Linked DNA regions of Homo sapiens. The protein of the gene in region 1 purifies or fractionates together with the protein of each later gene. This does not show direct contact. Each region holds a gene or a part of one and is shown in the gene's direction. Other genes may lie near its edges. The genes, in order: PAM16 and TIMM17A.

The links.
Region 2: the proteins of PAM16 (region 1) and TIMM17A purify together in Homo sapiens (affinity purification with western blotting; 2 studies listed by BioGRID). This does not show direct contact.

Annotation. Positions count from the first base shown.
Region 1 is NC_000016.10:4,341,322-4,351,959, reverse strand, and holds the start of PAM16 (mitochondrial import inner membrane translocase subunit TIM16), read left to right. Parts: upstream 1-638; 5' UTR 639-725; coding exon 726-728; intron 729-8,668; coding exon 8,669-8,753; intron 8,754-10,455; coding exon 10,456-10,592; intron 10,593-10,638. Other genes in the region: CORO7-PAM16 protein, read left to right, coding at 8,669-8,753, 10,456-10,592. UniProt on the Homo sapiens protein: Regulates ATP-dependent protein translocation into the mitochondrial matrix. Inhibits DNAJC19 stimulation of HSPA9/Mortalin ATPase activity.
Region 2 is NC_000001.11:201,963,050-201,972,349, forward strand, and holds the end of TIMM17A (mitochondrial import inner membrane translocase subunit Tim17-A), read left to right. Parts: intron 1-566; coding exon 567-695; intron 696-2,383; coding exon 2,384-2,494; intron 2,495-6,419; coding exon 6,420-6,505; 3' UTR 6,506-7,615; downstream 7,616-9,300. UniProt on the Homo sapiens protein: Essential component of the TIM23 complex, a complex that mediates the translocation of transit peptide-containing proteins across the mitochondrial inner membrane.

The DNA of each region.
Region 1 (10,638 bases):
GACTAATGGGTGATGAAAACGTTCTGGAACTAATAGTGGTGACAGTGGCACAGCTCTGTGAATAAAAGGCATTGGACTGTGCACTTGAAAATCATGAAATCTACAGTGTATGGATTATATCTCAATAAAGCTGTTACTTTTTTCATTCATGGAGGGCAAGTCACGGCGTTTTAAGGGGTCCAGGTGGGCCTCATTGAGGTGACATTTGAGCAAAGATTTGAAGAAGGGAACGAGCTTCTCAGGCAGGAGGAATGTGGATGAAACCTATTTTGAAGTTTTCTATTTTCTAAAGTATTTTTGAGAATTTAGCATCCTACTCCATATTATGTTCATTGATTTCATATAATGTTGCATTCCCAAATATTTTGGCAAAATCAAGGGCAGAAATCGCCCCACGTCTGACCGATGTGCTTAGCTGCTCCAGCGCACTGGGGTAAGCACGCGGGCAATTGAGACTCCCGGTAACGCCCCTTGCCCTCCCAAGCCCGCCCCCAGTTATCCAGAGCCCGACGCAGGCTCAGTCAAACCCCGCCTCCGACCCCGCCCCGAGCCGCTAAGACGCTCCCGGTGGCCCGCCCTTAGACTGAGGCAATGCGCATGCCCAGCGCCGTATCGCGCACGCGCTCTCTGCGGCTTTCCTTGACCTCTGACCCGCCGACCACGCTTGATCCCCGGCCGCGGGGCCAGGAAGTCGGAGTTTGAGCCCCGGAGGCAGAGCGGCTGCCATGGTGAGCCCCGAGTCGGGCGCTACCGGGGAGGGGAAGCCGAGTCGGGCCGGGGGCCGGGGGCCGGGCGGCGAGCTCCGGGCTGGGCGGCGGGCGCCGTGCGCCCCCTGCGTGCCCGGCGGGAAGCATGGTCTGGGGGCGTTGCACCCGGGGGAATCGAGGCCGGCAGCGGCGGCACCGGCGGCCTCAGGGCCAGGGAAAACCGTCTGCCTGGAAGAGGCCGGGCAAACGTGGTCGCGCTGTGCCTAGCCCGCGTGTGAGCGAGCAGCCGTGGGCAGCGGTGGAGCATGAGTCTGGCTGGTGAGCGCCTCCCCTGCCCTGGAACCTTACAGCGCTGCAGAGTCGATGTTGCTGCCCTGTTGTTATCCCCAGTGGAAAGCTGGCCTTTCCAGGGAAGTGGCTGACCTGGGACTTGAACTAGGCCCCGAGACACCGAGCACGGAGCGTTTGTGTGATATCGTTGGCACGTAGAGCCAGTCAACAGACCTGCGCCACACTGTCAGGTCACCTAGGGTAGCTTTAAAAGTGCAGGTTTGGCTGGGCGCGGTGGCTCACGCCTGTAATCCCAGCACTCTGGGAGGCCGAGGCGGCGGATCACGAGGTCAGGAGTTCGAGACCAGCCTGGCCAACATGATGAAACCCGGTCTCCACCAAAAAATTTAAAAAATTAGCCGGGTGGGGTGGTGCGCGCCTGTAGTCCAAGCTACCCGGGAGGCTGAGGCAGGACAGACGCTTGAACCCGCGAGACAGAGGTTGCAATGAGCCGAGATCCGCCAGTGCACTCTAGCCTGGGCGACAGGGTGAGACTGCGTCTCAAAAAAAAAATTATATATATGTATTATATATACCGTATACATTTATGTATACTACATATTATTATGTTATATATATTTTTATATATCATGTATTTTATATATATATATACACACACACACACATAATATATACATATGTTAGCCAGGCATGGTGGCACACACCTGTAATCCCAGCTGCTTGGGAAGTTGAGGCGCCAGTATCGCTTGAACCCAGGAGGCAGAGGCTGCAGTGAACCAAGATTGTGCCACTGCACTCCAGTCTGGGCGACAGGGCAAAACTCTCTCAAAAAGAAAAAGAGGGGGAAAAAAAAAGTTCAGGTTCTTGAGCTCTATCCCTGGAGGTTCTGCACACGTAAGTTCCCCAAGTGACTCTGTTGCAGCTGGTTCGGGGAGCCACTTCTTAACTAACATAGTAATAAGGATAATGTAACAGCTAACGGCGTACAAGTGCCAGCCCCTGAGCTAAGGCTTTATGTAGAGTCTCTCATTTAGTGTTTATGAAGTCCTGCTGTCATTGTCCTTATTTTACAGATAAGGAACCTGAGCCCCAGACAGTTTTGACTCCACCATAGTCATGCATCCCATGGTGTCAGAGACCTCTTTTGAGCCCAGCTCTGTCCCAAAACTCATGGGGTTTTTTTGGTTTGTTTTTTGAGATAGGATGTCTGTCTGTCGCCCCGGCTAGGATGCAGTGGAGCGATCCTAGCTCACTGCAGCCTTGAACTCCTAGGCTCAAGCCATCCTCCTACCTTAGACCCCCAAGTAGTTGGGCCTACAGGTGAGTGCCAGCACACCTGGCTAATTTTTAAATTTTATGTAGAGGTGGGGTCTTGCTGTGTTGCCCCAGATGGGTCTCCTAGGCTGGAGTACAGTGGTACGATCACAGCTCACTGCAGCCTCAACCTCCTGGGGCTTAGGTGATCCTCCCATTTCATCCTCCCCAGTAGCCTCAGCCTCCCGGGTAGTTGGGACAACAGGCATGCTCCACTATGCCCAGCTAATTTTTTGTATTTTTTGTAGAGATGCAGTTTCGCCATGTTGCCAGGCTGGTCTCAAACTTCTGGGCCCAAGCAGTCCTCCTGCCTCGGACTCCCAAAGTGCTGGGATTATAGGCGTGAGCCACCGCACCCAGCATGACAGTATATTAACAGGAAAAGAAAGTGCTGGCCGGGCACGGTGGCTCACACCTGTAATCCCAGCACTTTGGGGGTCTCAGGCGGGTGGATCACGAGGTCAGGAGATCAAGACCATCCTGGCTAACATGGTGAAACCCCGTCTCTACTAAAAATACAAAAAATTAGCCGGGTGTGGTGGCAGGCACCTGTAGTCCCAGCTACTCAGGAGGCTGAGGCAGGAGAATGGCTTGAACCCGGGAGGCCGAGCTTGCAGTGAGCCGAAGGTCGCGCTACTGCACTCCGGCCTGGGTGACAGAGCAAGACTCCGTCTCAAAAAAAAAAAAAAAAAAAGAAAGTGCTAGGCCGGGTACGGTGGCTCACGCCTGTAATCCCAGCACTTTGGGTGGATTACCTGAGCTCAGGGGTTCGAGACCAGCCTGGGCAACACGGTGAAACCCTCTCTGTACTAAAAATACAAAAAATTAGCCGGGCATGGCAGCGTGTGCCTGTAGTCCCAGCTACTCAGGAGGCTGAGGCAGAAGAATTTCTTGAACCCGGGAGGCAGAGGCTGCAGTGAGCCGAGATCGCACTACTGCACTCCGGCCTGGGCGACAGAGCAAGACTCCATCTCCAAAAAAAAAAGAAAGTGCTGTCGGAAGGTATACATGGGAGAGCCTGGAAAGGGTTTCACCCGGGGGATGGGGAATGATATTAGGTCCTGAGGGATGTTGGGTTTTGACAGGATCAGGGTAGAAGGGAGGATGTTCAAGGTGGAGGAACTCAGAACAGCAAAGGCCCTGAGGAGTACAGAAGTATGAGAGCGGCTCTAGGAGCAGAGGGTGTGGCTGCAGCGTGGAGAGAGGTGAGGTTGAGAAGTTGAGGCCAGACCAGGCGCTGTGAATGCCAAGCTGGGGAGTGGACCAAATCTGCAGGCGGCGGTGGAGAATTGTGTGTTTACTGGGAGATGGCCAGAACCCTCCCGCAGAAGGGTTAGGAGGCGCTTGGAAACCCTGCCTGGGGACATGGAGTTCATGAGACAGCAGATTGGGCAAAGCTGCAACAGCCATATTCATTCAGATGCACCAGGGGCACTTACTGCGCCAGCCACTGGCCAGGTCCCTGATGTTGTGGCACGTGCTACAGTTGTGGTCCTGACCTTTCTCCTGTCTAGTTGTGATGCCCGTATCTATTCTCAGGGGCCCTGGGTGACCAGAGTGTCCTTGAGAGTGAGTCTCAGGCTGTCTGCTTATCTACCCAGAGCCTGGGGCTTGGCCTCAAAGGCGCATTGCACGCGAATCTCAAAGACACAAGTCAGTGTAAGCCCCATTGCTGAGTGCCTCCCACAGCACTGTCTGTGGTCCCAGCTGCTGGGATCTGGTCCTGCCTTGGGCCAGGTTGCTGCCCAACAACGAAGTGCACATGCTGCCCCCACGCATGCCAGGATTGGATCCTGTGCTTCTGACTGCTGCTCTCTGACAGCCGCGTGGCCTGAAGTTGGATGCCAAGTCAGCTGGGTCCTCTCACCTGGGACCCTCAGGCCCAAGTGTCAGTCGGTGGACTATGGGATGTTTGGAGCCTCTGGGAGGGGCCTCAGGCAGTGGTTGTTTTGGTCACCCATGGTAGCCACAGCTGGCAGAGCTCTGCTCCCTGTGAATGAGCTCTGAACTCAGCCTGACCCATGGCAGAAGCTCAGGGGATGTTGGGGTACTGGATAGGTGGATGAGGGGCTTGCCTGCACCGCCTAGTTCTGGACCTGCCGCTGTTTGTCCATGTGGTGTTAATGGGCATTGCCTCCTGAGGGCCTTACTGTCCTCTTGTGAGGAGGGTGTTATTCTCTCCATCTTGCAGTTAAGAAAACTGAGGTAGGCTGGGCACAGTAGCTCACACCTGTAATCCTAGCACTTTGGGAAGCCGAGGAGGGCAGTTCATGCGAACCTAGGAGTTCAAGACCAGCCTGGGCAACATGGCGAAACCCCATCTCTCCAGAAAAGTACATTTAGCCAAATGTGGTGGCGTGTGCTCAGCCTCCAGAAGTTATGAAATTTCCACCTACTTGTGAAATCCTAACCCACTTGTGTTTGTTCATTCCCCTAATGGCCCATATCACATCCCGCCTGTTAAGGAAAGAGCAGGTCCTCGGAGGCTGAGTACAAGTAGCTCCAGCTACTCGGGAGGCTTAAGCAGGAGAATCTCTTGAGGCTGGGAGGCTGAGGCTGCAAGTGAGCCATGATTGCACCACTGCACTCCAGCCTGGACGACAGAGTTAGACTCTGCTTCCAAAAAAAAGGCCAGGTGTGGTGTCTCATGCCTGTAATCCCAGCACTTTGGGAGGCCGAGGCGGGTGGATCACCTGAGGTCAGGAGTTTGAGACCAGCCTGACCAACATGGTGAAACCTCGTCTCTATTAAAAATACAAAATTAGCTAGGCTTGGTTGTGTTCACCTGTAATCCCAGTTACTTGGGAGGGTGAGGCAGGAGGATCGTTTGAACTGGTGAGGTGGAGGTTGCAATGAGCCGAGATTGAACCACTGCACTCTAGCCTGGGTGACAGAGCGAGAGTCAGTCTCAAAAAAATAAATAAAAAATAAAAGACCCAAACCAAAACAAAAAAAGATTCAGAGAGGTTGAGTAATTTGTCCAGGGTCACACAGCTATTGAGAAAGAAAGCTAGGGTTCTGGTCCCAGGTCAACGTGGTTCTCGTTCTGCTTCCTTGCTGCTTCCCAGCTCCCTGAGGGAATGTAGTATGGTGTTTTGCAGCCTTCACCCCTGAGGAAGCAAAGGGCCTGTATCAAATGAGCTGCTATTTTGAAAGAAGCTTTGTTACTTCATAGTGCCTGGTCATTGTCAGATTTTGTGAAACAGTAGTAATGAATGAAAACCAATGTTTATTGAGCACCTGCTGTACCATTAGGCTGTGTGCCAGGCATTTGACAGGCATTATCTCAGCTTTATTGGTGGCCACATTTTACAGGTAAGCAAACTGGGTTGCTCAAAGGAGTTGAGAACGTGTCTATGTCAGATAGCTGGGATTTTTGCACACAGGTGATCCCAAAGCCTGCAGGTGTAACCATTACACTACACTGCGTCTTCTCAGAGATGCCTCCTATAGGAACCTTGCTGGCCTCAATGGGCCGTCCAGTCTGCTGAAACTTTGCAGGCCAGCCCCCCTCTGCCCTGCAGCTCTAGGCAGCTGAAGCCACAGGCCACCACGCCGCTTTGGTTTGAAGTGTGCAGGGGATGGTCGGGGAAGCTCCCCAGTTATGACCTCAGCTCTTACCGTTCATTATTTTGCAACAGTCATTGGCCTTGGCAGAAAAGTAAACAAGTGATTGCAAGGCTGTACGATGGCAGCAGAGGGACCGAAGGCTGTTGGTGTGAGGGGTAGTCTGAGACCTGAGCCGTGTTTCAAGCCGAGGGGACCCTCTGACTTTCACCTCTGTCCTTCAGACAGCACCAGCATCCCATCCCTGAGCCTCCTGTTCCACTCGGGAGGGGCTTTAGGAAGGAGGCGAAGTCAGGTGAGACCGCAGGTGTCATCAGGTGCATCCCTGACCCTCCCTCATCTGCAGTACAGCCACAGCCCTGCCCCTCGCTGTGATCACAGGAGGGTCTTCTCTGGGCTCTTTCTGCTGTGAAATCCAGAAGTTATGAAGTTTCCACCTACTTTTGAAATCTTAACCCACTTGTTTGTTCATTCCCCTAATGGCCCATAATGACATCCCACCTGTTAAGGAAAGAGCAGGTCCTCGGAGGCTGAACAAGGCCAGCTCTGGAGTCGAATCCACTGGAATCTGGAGCAAGCCCCTCTGGCCTCGGGGTTGGGTTCTTGATACTTGTCGGCTTGCCCAGGTGCCCTACCTTCAGACCCCGGGACCCTGCGTAGTGACTGCTGTGACAGATAGCACCAGCCTTGGGTTTCCGATCTGCCTCCGAGGCACCTGCTGTTACGTCCTCGGGCCAGTCAGCAGTCCCCCACCCCTGAGTTGTCAGAATTAAACGGCACAATGAATTGAACGTGTTTGGCACCGTGCCTGGTGTGTGGACTCAGTTGATACTTGTTGACTGAAGGCAAATCTACAGAAAAGCACTAGGAAGAAAGGGAAAGTCACTCGGCTGTGCCACATGAGCTTTCAACCTATGCCGAGCTGCCTCCAGCCCGCGCCACCCCCCTGCGTCTACGGCTTTGCAGTCACAAGATCCTTTGTATGTGCTGTCTATATATAATCGCTTTGTTTCACAAAGATCTGTGCATCTTTCCATGTCATCCGCCAGATTCCCAGTCTTTCCCAGGCCAGCCTAGGCTATTGGCTGCTCGCAGGAACTCCCTTCTGCCTTCTCTCCTGCCAGTTTTGGCTCAACCCAGTCCCTCTGCCTAGAAAGCCCTAGTATTTCCATCATGATTCTTCCTACCCTGCAAAGCCCAGCCCAGGAGGAACCCCCTCCTCTCACGGAACCCCCTCCTCTCACAGAACCCCCTCCTCTCACACAATCCCCTCCTCTCACACAATCCCCTCCTCTCACAGAACCCCCTCCTCTCACGGAACCCCCTCCTCTCACAGAACCCCCTCCTCTCACGGAACCCCCTCCTCTCACGGAACCCCCTTCTCTCACGGAACCCCCTCCTCTCACAGAACCCCCTCCTCTCACGGAACCCCCTCCTCTCACGGAACCCCCTCCTCTCACAGAACCCCCCCTCACACAATCCCCTCCTCTCACGGAACCCCCTCCTCTCACAGAACCCCCTCCTCTCACGGAACCCCCTCCTCTCACACAGTCCCCTTCTCTCACAGAACCCCCTCCTCTCACAGAACCCCCTCCTCTCACAGAACCCCCTCCTCTCACACAGTCCCCTCCTCTCAGAGAACCCCCTCCTGTCACACAGTCCCCTCCTCTCACAGAACCCCCTCCTCTCACACAGAACCCCCTCCTCTCACACAGAACCCCCTCTTCTCACACAGAACCCCCTCCTCTCACGGAACCCCCTCCTCTCACAGAACCCCCTCCTCTCACACAGAACCCCCTCCTCTCACAGAACCCCCTCCTCTCACGGAACCCCCTCCTCTCACGGAACCCCCTCCTCTCACGGAACGCCCTCCTCTCACACAGAACCCCCTCCTCTCACCGAATCCCATCTCAGTCTTGAGTTTTCCCTCGACTCTGTTGCTTCCGCTCACATCTTAGTGAGTCCCCAGGGCCTCTGCGGGGCATGGAATCACACGTGCAGTGTTCCGGCATGTTCAGCCTGGTGTGTGACAGTGGGGTTCCCTGCCAGGCCAGCAGTGTGCTCTGACTCGGGGCAGGGACCAGGTTCTGTGTAGCTTTGTGCTCAAGTGCTGAGCAGAGTAGACTCTCAGCAGATGTTTGAATGAATGGGTGAACCAATGGCTGCACAAATGAACGAGCCTGACTCTCCCTCATGATTTGGTCCATAGTGTGTTTAAATACCCTCCTAGTGGGCTTTTAGCTCCTTGAAGATGGAAACAGGTTTGCATAGTAAGTTTGTTTTATTGAATGGAATGGACTTAAAGTCTTCGGACTTGGGAGAATTAGGACAGATCTGTTTCCCCGTTGGTAAAGTAAAGGTTGGGCCTGATGATCTCAGAAACTCAGGAAGAGTGATGGTCGGCCCCAGGGTCGAGAGTGAGTTACTGCCAGGTCCAGGGCTGTCCCTGTGTTCTGGCTCCCAGACCACAGTGTTTCTTCCTGAAGCCGGTGGTTGCAGCCACTTTGCCTTGCTCCTCTACGCCTTTCCTGAAGGATGAGGTGGGGCCAGTCTGCCTCTGGGAGCTCGGTCAAGTTCACCCGCCTGCCTGCCTGTCCAGTGAGTAACTAAGCCACCCACCATGGAAGCTTTCATTCAGGGTGCTTTGGAGGGGTTGGCCTGGGGCTGCAGCTCTGTGCTTCATGACCTCGGGTCTCCGGGAGCCTTGCCCCTCGGCAGCCGTTTCCAGGGCCCATCTCTGTGGGCCCACAGGGAGTGGCCTGCTAACCGGGTGCCTGCTTTGCCCACAGGCCAAGTACCTGGCCCAGATCATTGTGATGGGCGTGCAGGTGGTGGGCAGGGCCTTTGCACGGGCCTTGCGGCAGGAGTTTGCAGGTAAGCATGGGTCCGTCTCCCCTGTGGGCTGGGAGTTCCTCTCCAGGTCAGATTTTCCCCGTAGCCATGGGCACCTCAGGCCTGGCGGTTCTGAAGTGTGCGTGGCCTGAGGCACTTCCCATGGTGGGGGGTGATGCCAGACCGGGGCATTCTTCAGTGGTACCTGGTTAGCAAGAGCATCCAGGGCAGGAGCTGGCACACTGGCCCATCTGGATACCTGATTTTGTAAACTTGTTTTTTCTTTTTTTGGAGATGGAGTCTCACTCTGTCGCCCAGGCTGGAATGCAGTGGGGCAATCTTGGCTCACTGCAACCTCTGCCTCCTGGTTCAAGTGATTCTCCTCCCTCAGCCTCCTGAGTAGCTGGGAATACAAGCACCCGACACCATACCAGGCTAATTTTTGTATTTTTAGTAGAGACGGGGTTTCACTATGTTGGCCATGCTGGTCTGGAACGCCTGACTTCAGGTGATCCGCCTGCCTCAAAGTGCTGGGATTACAGGTGTGAGCCACAGCGCCCGGCCCTGGTTTTGTAAATAAATCTTTTTTTTTTGAGACGGAGTTTTCGCTCTTGTTGCCCAGGCTGGAGTGCAATAGTGCGATCTTGGCTCACTGCAACCTCTGCCTCCCGGGTTCAAGCAATTCTTCTGCCTCAGCCTCCTGAGTAGCTGGGACTACAGGCATGCGCCACCATGCCCGGCTAATTTTGTATTTTTAGTAGAGACGGGGTTTCTCCGTGTTGGTCAGGCTGGTCTTGAACTCCCAACCTCACGTGATATGCCCACCTCGGCCTCCTGAAGTACTGGGATTACAGGCGTGAGCCACCGCACCCAGCCCTTTTGTTTTCTTTTGAGACGGAGTCTCACTGTGTTGCCCAGGCTGGAGTGCAATGGTGCGATCTTGGCTCACTGCAACCTCTGCCTCCCGGGTTCAAGCAATGCTCCTGCCTCAGCCTCTCCAGTAGCTGGGACTACAGGCATGTGCCACCACACCCAGCTGATTTTTGTATTTTTAGTAATTTTGTATTTTACAGGTTTTCATCATTTTGGCCAGGATGGTCTCGATCTCTTGACCTCGTGATCTGCCCTCCTTGGCCTCCCAAAGTGCTGGGATTACAGGCGTGAGCCACTGTGCCCGGCCGACAGGCTGCTTTCAAGGCAGAGTTGAATGGTTCCAGTGTAGGCTCATTAGCCCGCAAAGCCTAAAATAGCTACTCTCTGAGCCTTTAGGAAAAGTTTAGCAGCTCCTGATTCTAGGTTCTGGGGTCACTGAAAGGGGAGAGGTCACCCAAGGCAGTGGCTTTGGTGGTCTAGGTGACAGGTGGGCAGCTGGGCCCCTGCAGAGCCCTCTCATGCCCGCAGCCCCACTATACAGTCTCCATCGTAGCCTAAAGCTCCCCAATTTGCTGTTCCCCTGGGATATGGGGGTTGGGGGACAGGGTCATCTCATGGTCTAGGTTGGGGACCAGGAGCCAGGATTAGCGGTCAGATCCTGCCCTTACCCTCCAGTGAGGCACGTCTGTCCTCACTTTCCCAGCCTCTACCCCCTAAAAAGGAAACCACTCCTGGAGAAGAGGCAGCTCCTAGCCACCTGTCCCTGTGTCTCTCATCCTGTGCTGGTGGCAGGGGTGAGCCACCAACTCGGAAGGCCCAGGGTGAAGTGTGGGCTGCTGAGGACTGAGCGATCACCCACATGTCCACACAGCCAGCCGGGCCGCAGCTGATGCCCGAGGACGCGCTGGACACCGGTCTGCAGCCGCTTCCAACCTCTCCGGCCTCAGCCTCCAGGAGGCACAGCAGATTCTCAACGTGTCCAAGCTGAGCCCTGAGGAGGTCCAGAAGGTGAGGCCACTGGGCCACCCCAAAGTTTGAGAGGGAGAGGCTGCCA
Region 2 (9,300 bases), on another chromosome or scaffold:
TGCAGCCTGACTGTTTTAGGCTTGGCTTCTTTTTTGTTTGTTTGAGATGGAGTGTCGCTCTTGTTGCCCAGGCTGGAGTGCAGTGGCACGATCTCGGCTCACTGCAACCTCCGCCTCCTGGGTTCAAGCGATTCTCCTGCCTCAGCCTCCCCAGTAGCTGGGATTACAGGTGCTCGCCACCACACCCGGCTAATTTTTACATTTTTAGTAGAGGCGGAGTTTCGCCATGTTAGCCAGGCTGGTCTTGAACTCCTGGCCTCAGGTGATCCACCCACTTCAGCCTCCCAAAGTGCTGGGATTACAGGTGTGAGCTATGGCACCCGGCTGGCTTATTTCTTATAGGCTTTGGGCCGTTGCTAATTTTCCAGCTGATATAATACAATCCAGCTTTATTCGAAAGATAAGTATTCTAACTCTTGTTCGGTGTTTATTCAAACTTGTGTTTGCATGTATTTGTTTGGACTATAAATTTTGAGACTATAGTGAGTATGTTTTTGACTATAATATTTTAAATGGAAGATGAAATTTAAATTAGTATTTGCTTGTTTCTTTTTACAATAAAATAGGTAGCTTTGCAGTTTGGGGAGGGCTGTTTTCCATGATTGACTGTAGTATGGTTCAAGTCAGAGGAAAGGAAGATCCCTGGAACTCCATCACAAGTGGTGCCTTAACGGGAGCCATACTGGCAGCAAGAAGTAAGTAGTCATTACAGACATACTAGTAGAAGCCACACTTTTAGGAAAACCTCATCTGCCTCAATTGAATGACATCTGTAATATATAAAACTGATTATTGACCAGGCACATTGGCTCATGACTATAATTCCATCACTTGGGAGGCTGAGGCAGGTAGATTGCACAAGTCCAGGAGCTTGAGATCAGATATAGGGAGACCTGGTCTCTACAAAAAAAAAAATTTAATTAGCTGGGTGTGTTGGTGCATGCCTATAGTCCCAGCTACTCATGAGGCCGAGGCAGGAGGATCACTTGAGCCACCGCACTCTCACCTGGGCAACAGAGTGAGACCCTGCTTCAAAAAAAATAATAATTATAAAACTGAGCATTGTTTAATTTGGCATAGCATAAATATACAGTATATGGTGATTTGAAAAAAAAGTAAGGGGATCTATTTATTTGGAATATTTGAGAATGAAAGAGCATGGAATTCTAACCCATATATTACAGTGGTTGAGAGCACTTCAGGTCCCAGTTCTGCCATTAATTAGCTGTATGACTGGTCAGTTTACCAAACTTTTTATGCTATAATTTCTTCACCAGTAATCTGGAGTTAATTAATAATTACACCTGCCATATAGAGTTGTTATGAATAAGGAACTTAGAACCATCTTCTGGATCCTCAGGACAGAGAATTCCTTTGAGCTTAGTGGTTTAGACCAAGGGATTTGCAAACTATTTCTGTAAAAGGCCAGATAGTGAATATTTTAGGCTTTGTGGGCTGTGTGGTCTTTGTCATAGCTACCTAAATCTGCTGTCATAGCATGAAAGCAGCCATGGATAATACATAAACGAAACAGTATGGCTGTGTTTCAGTAAAACTTTATTTATTTATTTATTTTATTTTATTTCTTTTTTTTTTTTTTTTTTTTTTTTTTTTTTTGAGACTGAGTCTCACTCTGTCGCCCGAGCTGGAATGCAGTGGCGCAATCTCGGCTCACTGCAAGCTCTGCCTCCCGGGTTCAAGCGATTCTCCTGCCTCAGCCTCCCGAGTAGCTGGGACTACAGGTGTGTGCCACCACGCCTGGCTAATTTTTTGTATTTTTAGTGGAGACGGGGTTTTACCATGTTAGCCAGGATGGTCTCGATCTCCTGACCTCGTAATCCACCCACCTCGGCCTCCCAAAGTGTTGGGATTACGGGCGTGAGCCACTGCGCCCGGCCCTATTTATTTATTTATTTTCTTGAGACGGAGTCTTACTCTGTCACCCAGGCTGGAGTGCAGTGGCACAATCTCGGCTCACTGCAACCTCTGCTTCCTGGGTTCAAGCAATTCTCCTGCCTCAGCCTCCTGAGAAGCTGGGACTACAGGTGCCCGCCACCACGTCAAGCTAATTTTTGTATTTTTAGTAGAGACGGGGTTTCCCCATGTTGGCCAGGCTGGTCTCGAACTCCTGACCTCATGATCTGCCTGCCTCAGCCTCCCAAAGTGCTGGGATTTATGGCCTTTCAGTAAAACTTTATTTACAAAAATAGGCAGTGGGTGGACTGTGGGTGGCTGTAGTTTACTGACTCTGGGTCTTAGGCAATAAGAAAGAGTTTGGGAGTTGGGGGAGCATGTCACCATATGGACAGTTCTCTTCTTTACTATCTCTTACAGTAAACTAGATTTCTGTAAAAAATAATCTCTTTGTTATTAATGTCTTCAGATGGACCAGTGGCCATGGTTGGGTCAGCCGCAATGGGTGGCATTCTCCTAGCTTTAATTGAAGGAGCTGGTATCTTGTTGACAAGATTTGCCTCTGCACAGTTTCCCAATGGTGAGTCTTTTTGCTTAAAACTATAGCTCAAACATTTTGGAATGGTTTTCTGATGTTAAGAAAGAACATACTTTGTGTGATAAAATGTGTGGTATGTATTAATATGCTGTGGTTCATGAGGACTGTGATAATAGGTAAAAAATGAACATGTTATATTTAGCCACAAAAACAAAAATTTTTTGTATAAATTTGCTGTTGATCTTTCTTTATAGTACTTAGGGTTTATCAGTGCTCATGTCTTGCAAGAAATGTCTGATCATTTTAAAGGGACTTGAAGAATGGTTCTGCAGATGTATAACAATCATGATGGTCAATTGACAATTTAGTATTGTACATCTACATGCCAGACACTGTTTTAGGTAGTGAACAGGACAGTTCCTGCCCTCAAGGACTTACATTCTGGTAGGGGGAGACAGACTAACACATTAACAGATAAATTAGCTTATTTTAGATAGTGTTGCTTGTTTTGAAGAAGAGAATAGTGGAAAGTGACTCATATTTGGGAAGGTCACTTTAGGGTTCACAGTAGAAGTATCTTAGAAAATGTGTTAGCCCGGCTAATTTTTATATTGGTTTAATTTGTTGCCTGTTGTTCCTCCTATATGATGCATAGGGTAATAATTAAATTGTGGGCTGAATGATCATTACATGGTTATAGAATGTGCTCTCAGCTGATTAGCCAGGCATAATGGCTCACACCTATAGTCCTAGCTACTCAGGAGGCACGAGAATCAGTTGAACCTGGGAGGTGGAGGTTGCAGTGAGCCGAGATCACACCACTGCACTCTAGGCTGGTCGATGGAGCGAGACTCTGTCTCAAAATGAAACAAACAGAAAACTTCTATCAAGATGGTGCATTCCTGTAGTTCCAGCTACTCAGGAGGCCACTCACTTGACCCCAGGAGTTCAAGGCCAGCCTGGGCAACAGAGCAAGACCCCATCTCTTAAAAAAAAATTTCAGTGTCTAAATGAAAATATCCCTTGACAATGGAAGGATGCAAAAAGATATTGTGAGGTGGCCGGGCACGGTGGCTCACACCTGTAATCCCAGCATTTTGGGAGACTGAGGCAGGTGGATCACTTGAGGTCAGGAGTTTTGAGAGCAGCCTGGCCAACGTGGTGAAACCCCGTCTCTACTAAAAATACAAATTAGCAGGGCATGGTGGCACACGCCTGTAATCGCAGCTCCTTGGGAGGCTGAGGTACAAGAATCACTTGAACCTGGGAGGCAGAGATTGCAGTGAGCTGAGATCACACCATTGCACTCCAGCCTGGGCAACAGAGCAAGACTCCATCTCAAAAAATATATATATATATAACATATATATGTTATATATATGCTATATATGTTATATATTATATATGTTATATAATATGTATGTTATATGTTGTATATATGTTATGTATTATATATGTTATATATTATATATGTTGTATATTATATATGTTGTGTGTGTGTGTGTGTGTGTGTGTATATATATATAGTGAGGATAGTAGTAGTGAAAATTTGACCTGGCATTTGGGAAGGAAAAAAATACGTAGAATAGTGAGACATGTTGAAAATTATTTTTGGAGCTTGGAAAAGATTCAGCATAAAGTTAGGAATAGATCATACATCCCAATTTGCTTTGATTTCCCTGAGGCACCTAGCAAGAGATTCAGTATCTTTTTGGCACAATTTTCAAGTGCACTGCTCGTTAAATGGCAGTGAGTAATCTAGATGACCCTGCAGACCCTCTCACCTTCTGTTTGTTTTTCATTCCTTACTTCTGAGTTAACACTCTGTAGTGATGGTCACTTTCCAATTTTGTTTTGACTGCTTCAGTGTGAAAGACTTTACATAAAACATCAAAACAGTTCCATATTCACAGAAATTCAGAAATGGATATAGTTAACTTAAATAGTTACATTGTCTCATAGAAATTAGCCTTGAGTACTTTGTTTTAGGCTTTTTTCCTCAGAGGGAATCTCCTTTTTATTTATTTATTTTATTTATTTATTTATTTATTTTAATTTTTTTTGAAACAGAATCTCTGTGACCCCGGCTGGAGTGCAGTGGTGCAATCTCGGCTCACTGCAGCCTTGACCTCCTGGGCTCAGGCGATCCTCCCACCTCAGCCTCTTGAGCAGCTGGGACTATAGGTGTGCACCGCTATGCCCGGCTAATTTTTATATTTTTTGTAGAGATGAGGTCTCTGCCCAGGCTGATCCTAAACTCCTGGGCTCAAGCGATCCTCCCTGCCTCGGCCTCCCAAAGTGCTGGGATTACAGGGGTGAGCCACCGTGCCCAGCTGGAATCTCCTTTTTAGTAATTAAAACTCAGCATTTATATAGAAGCAGCCTAAAAGAGGTGTATTTATTTTTAGACAAGAGATGTGTTTCTGAAAAGCTGTGTAGGGGGGAAATCTTTGAAAACTTAATCATATTTTTCCAGTGAACTTACATGAAAAAGTTTGTCTTGTTTTGTTTTTGAGACAGAGTCTCGGTCTGTCGCCCAGGCTGGATTGCAGTGGTGCAATCTCAGCTTACTGCACCCTCCGCCTCCGGGGTGCAAGCGATTCTTCTGTCTCAGCCTCCTGAGTAGCTGGGACTACAGGTGCGCAACATCACACCTGGCTCATTTTTTTTTTGTATTTTTTAGTAGAGATGCAGTTTCACCATATTGGTCAGGCTGGTCTCGAACTCCTGACCTCGTGATCCGCCCGCCTTGACCTCCCAAAGTGCTGGGAATGTGAGCCATCGCGCCCAGCAAAAAAGTTTTTAAAACAGTGAAAAAAGGTTAGACAGAACTGTATGTAAATGGCAACAGTGGTTTTCATCGGCTTATCTTTTTTTGGGGTTTTTTTGTTTTTGTTTGTTTTTTTTTTTTTAGACAGACTTGCTCTGTCTCGCAGGCTGGAGTGCAATGGCGCGATCTCTTCTCACTGCAACCTCCACCTCCCAGGTTCAAGTGATTCTCCTGCCTCAGCTCCTGAGTAGTTGGGATTACAGACACCCTCCACCATGCCCAGCTAATTTTCATATTTTCAGTAGAGACGGGGTTTCGCCATGTTGTCCTGACCTCAGGTGATCTGCCCGCCTCAACCTCCCAAAGTGCTGAGATTACAGGCGAGAGCCACCGCACCCGGCCCCAGCTTATCTTTTTTACCCAGTATCTTCTCAAGTTTTCTGTAATTAACAGATAGTTGCATTTATAGTGAAGTAAAAATATATGAGTGAAACACTTTGAAAACTTCAGAGAATTCTGCCACTGCCCTCTTTCTCTCTTCCTTCCAGATATTTTTTAGTCTACTTCAGTTTTTCTTAAAGGAGAAAAGATTGATTCATCCCCTAAAAGTCTTTTTTTTTTTTTTAAGCCACTTTGTTTTACTTAGTTCACAGGCTCTCCTATCCTTTGAAAATGAAAACTGCAAGACTTTGTTCTACAGTAAGCTAGGGGGTGTCTTCCCATTTCAGAGCTCATTCCCTACTTAATTGGTTATATAAATTGGATTACCAAGTTCTCTTAAAACATGACTAGGATACTTATACTTTGTGAAAATAATTTTAAATAGCTACTGAAAAATATGACAAGAAGTGGGAGAAACTCTTCTAATCTTGATATATGGCAGCTTGTTACAGCAATTGCTTTAAAAACTTGAAGTTTGCTTCTTGCTATAATTAATCCGTCTGACTTTCCTAGCATAGTGTTTGAAAACTGTTCATTCTGGAGCATAGCAAGCCAGTCTGTCATATGTTATACCAAATTTGAAGGTTCTCCAGTACTCTTATGGGAATTAGGCAGATCTATAAAGAAATTTAGGGTTATAGCTTTAATTTAGCACATTTTTTTGTTGTTGATTGATTTACTCTCTATAGAGATTTGTTCTTTTTAATAATATAATATTCAGGTGATTTTTAAATCCTTTTTATTTCTCACTTGCAGGTCCTCAGTTTGCAGAAGACCCCTCCCAGTTGCCTTCAACTCAGTTACCTTCCTCACCTTTTGGAGACTATCGACAATATCAGTAGGACTTCTTTCCTAGGATTTCTTTAACAGAACGAGTTGTGGTTCGAGAAGGATTTCAGAAGATCAAGTTACAGTCTGTTTTTAAAACCATAGGTGGGACAGCTATGGCCAATAGGCTATAAAGAGACATTTAGCACTTTTTTCTATTTAAAGGAACAAGCGGGGAAGGGTGCTAAAAGATAATACGTTTATTTATTCACACTTGAATTGCATTTGTGATCAAAATAAATGTTTAAATCGCTAAAGGAAAATACAGTAAGTGCTTGAAAGATGAAGGACCAAAAGGCCAAAAAACAGTGAAATATGATCATCATCTCCTTGCGGACTTCTCTGCCTGGTTTTGTGTGTTCTGTTATTCAAACAATAAAAAGCTGGTGGAACTTACTCTTTCTTTTAAGATAAGTTGTAGACTTCGATGTTTCATGCTCATGTACTTCAAATAATGCATGTTTTATAGTTAGTCCCTCATCACTTGAAGTGACTTCTGAGAATTATGCAGAGTCAACATGGATCATTTCACAGTGAGATGCTTTATGGATTGAAGGATATGGTAAAATGTTTATAGTTTACTTTGAAAGTAAAATATACTATGTCTTGGTTTTGAGGATATTGGATACAAAACTCTCTTCCTTTAGGGCTACTGAGTCTTGATTCCTGATCATCAGAAATTTCACCAGAAACAACTTGCTTCCAATATACCCAATTCTATATGAAGAATTCATGGAGAGTGTACTGGCACTGGAAGAGTTTAGTGTTTCTTGTATGCTTGAAAATAAAGTATGTACTGTTTTGAATGTGTTCCAAGTCCTCTGCATAAACGATGTATTTTGGGGTCTGGTTGGGCCTGGAAAATGGATGAGCACTTCAGAACAGGTCATTTTCCTGATATTGGAAGTGACATGTGGCCCTATAGGAGGCATGATGTTAGTTAATTACACATTTGCCTACATCTGTGGGAAATGGAGAACAAAGCCATGTGGGTACTGTAAACACACGTTTATCTTTTGGCCCAATGCCATACATATGGTAGGCATTTAATTACTGATTGTGTTTGGATAATTTGGGAATTTTCGACTGTGGTAAAATATACATAAAATAATACTTATTAACCATTTGTAAGTGTATAATTCAGTGGCATTGAAATACAGTCATAATGTTGTATAACAGCCACCATTATGTATACCCAAAATGTTCTCATTATCATCAACATAAACTCCGTTTTGTTTTTAGAGACAGTGTCTTACTCTGTCACCCAGGCTGGAATGCAGTGGCACAGTCATAGCTTACTGCAGCCTCGAACTCCTGGCTTCGAGCCATCCTTCTGCCTCAGCCTCCCACACCCCATGCTGGGATTACAGGCATGAGCCACCATGTCCAGCCTTCACAAACATAAACTCTGTACCTGTTAAATAATAACTTCCCATTCTTTCCTCGCCACAACCACTAGTAACCACAATTCTGCTTTCTGTCTGTGAATTTGCCTTTTCTGGGTACCTTATATAAGTGGAATCATAAAATATTTGTTTTTGTGTGTCCGTCTTAATGCACTTAGCGTGTTTTAAGGTCCATGTAGTAGCATGTAGCAAAATTTATTTTTAGGGCTGAATAATATTCCATAGTGTGCATATACTACATTTTATTTGATGATCAGTTAGGTTGTTTCTACCTTTTGGCTATTGTGAATTATGCTGCTATGAACATTGGTGTACAACTATCTGTTTCAACTCCTATTTTTGGTTCTTTTGGATATATACATAAGAGTGAGATTACCGAGTCATATGGTAGTTCTAGGTTTAACTTTTTTTTTTTTAAAGACACAAGAGTCTGGCCGGGTGCAGTGGCTCACGTCTGTAATCCCAGCACTTTGGGAGGCCAAAGCGGGCAGGTCACAAGCTCAGGAGTTCGAGACCATCCTGGCTAACACAGTGAAATCCCGTCTCTACTAAAAATACAAAAAATTAGCTGGGCGTGGTGGTGGGCGCCTGTGGTCCCAGCTACTTTGGAGGCTGAGGCAGGAGAATGGCGTGAATCCGGGAGGTGGAGCTTGCAGTGAGCCGAGATCTTGCCACTACTCCAGCCTGGGCGACAGAGCGAGACTCCGTCTCAAAAATATAAAAGAAAGTGCTGGGCGCGGTGGCACACGCCTGTAATCCCAGCACTTTGGGAGGCTGAGGAGGGTGAATCACGAGGTCAGGAGTTCGAGACCAGCCTGGCCAACATGGTGAAACCCGGTGGGTACTAAAAATACAAAAAATTAGCTGGTAATGGTGCCGGGCACCTATAATCCCAGCTATTTGGGAGGCTGAGGCAGGAGAATCACTTGAACCTGGGAGGGAAGAGGTTGTAGTGAGCCAAAATCACACCACTACACTCCAGCCTGGGCAACAGTGCAAGACTGTCTCAAAACAAAAAAGTAATCCACTATTGCATGCCAATTTGGCACAAGATGTCAGATACAAAGCAAAACAGATGGGGTATTTCTGATGGGCATTTCAACCTTAAAAGTGAGAAACTAACTTCACTATTCCAGTAAAGACCTAGGGAAAACCTCCTTCCTAATCTGCTTGTTTCTCCAGTTATTTATTTCAGTTATTAAAACAATTTAGTTTTTTTACTTTTTATCTTGAGCTCTACTCTAGTATACCAAATTTAGTTTTAGAATATTTATTAAACAGTTCAGCTGGGGATGGTGGCTCATACCCATAATCCCAGCATTTTGGGAGGCTGAAGCAGGAAGGTCGCTTGAGGTCAGGAGTTGGAGACTAGCCTGGGCTAGTGAGACGCTAGCCACAAAATG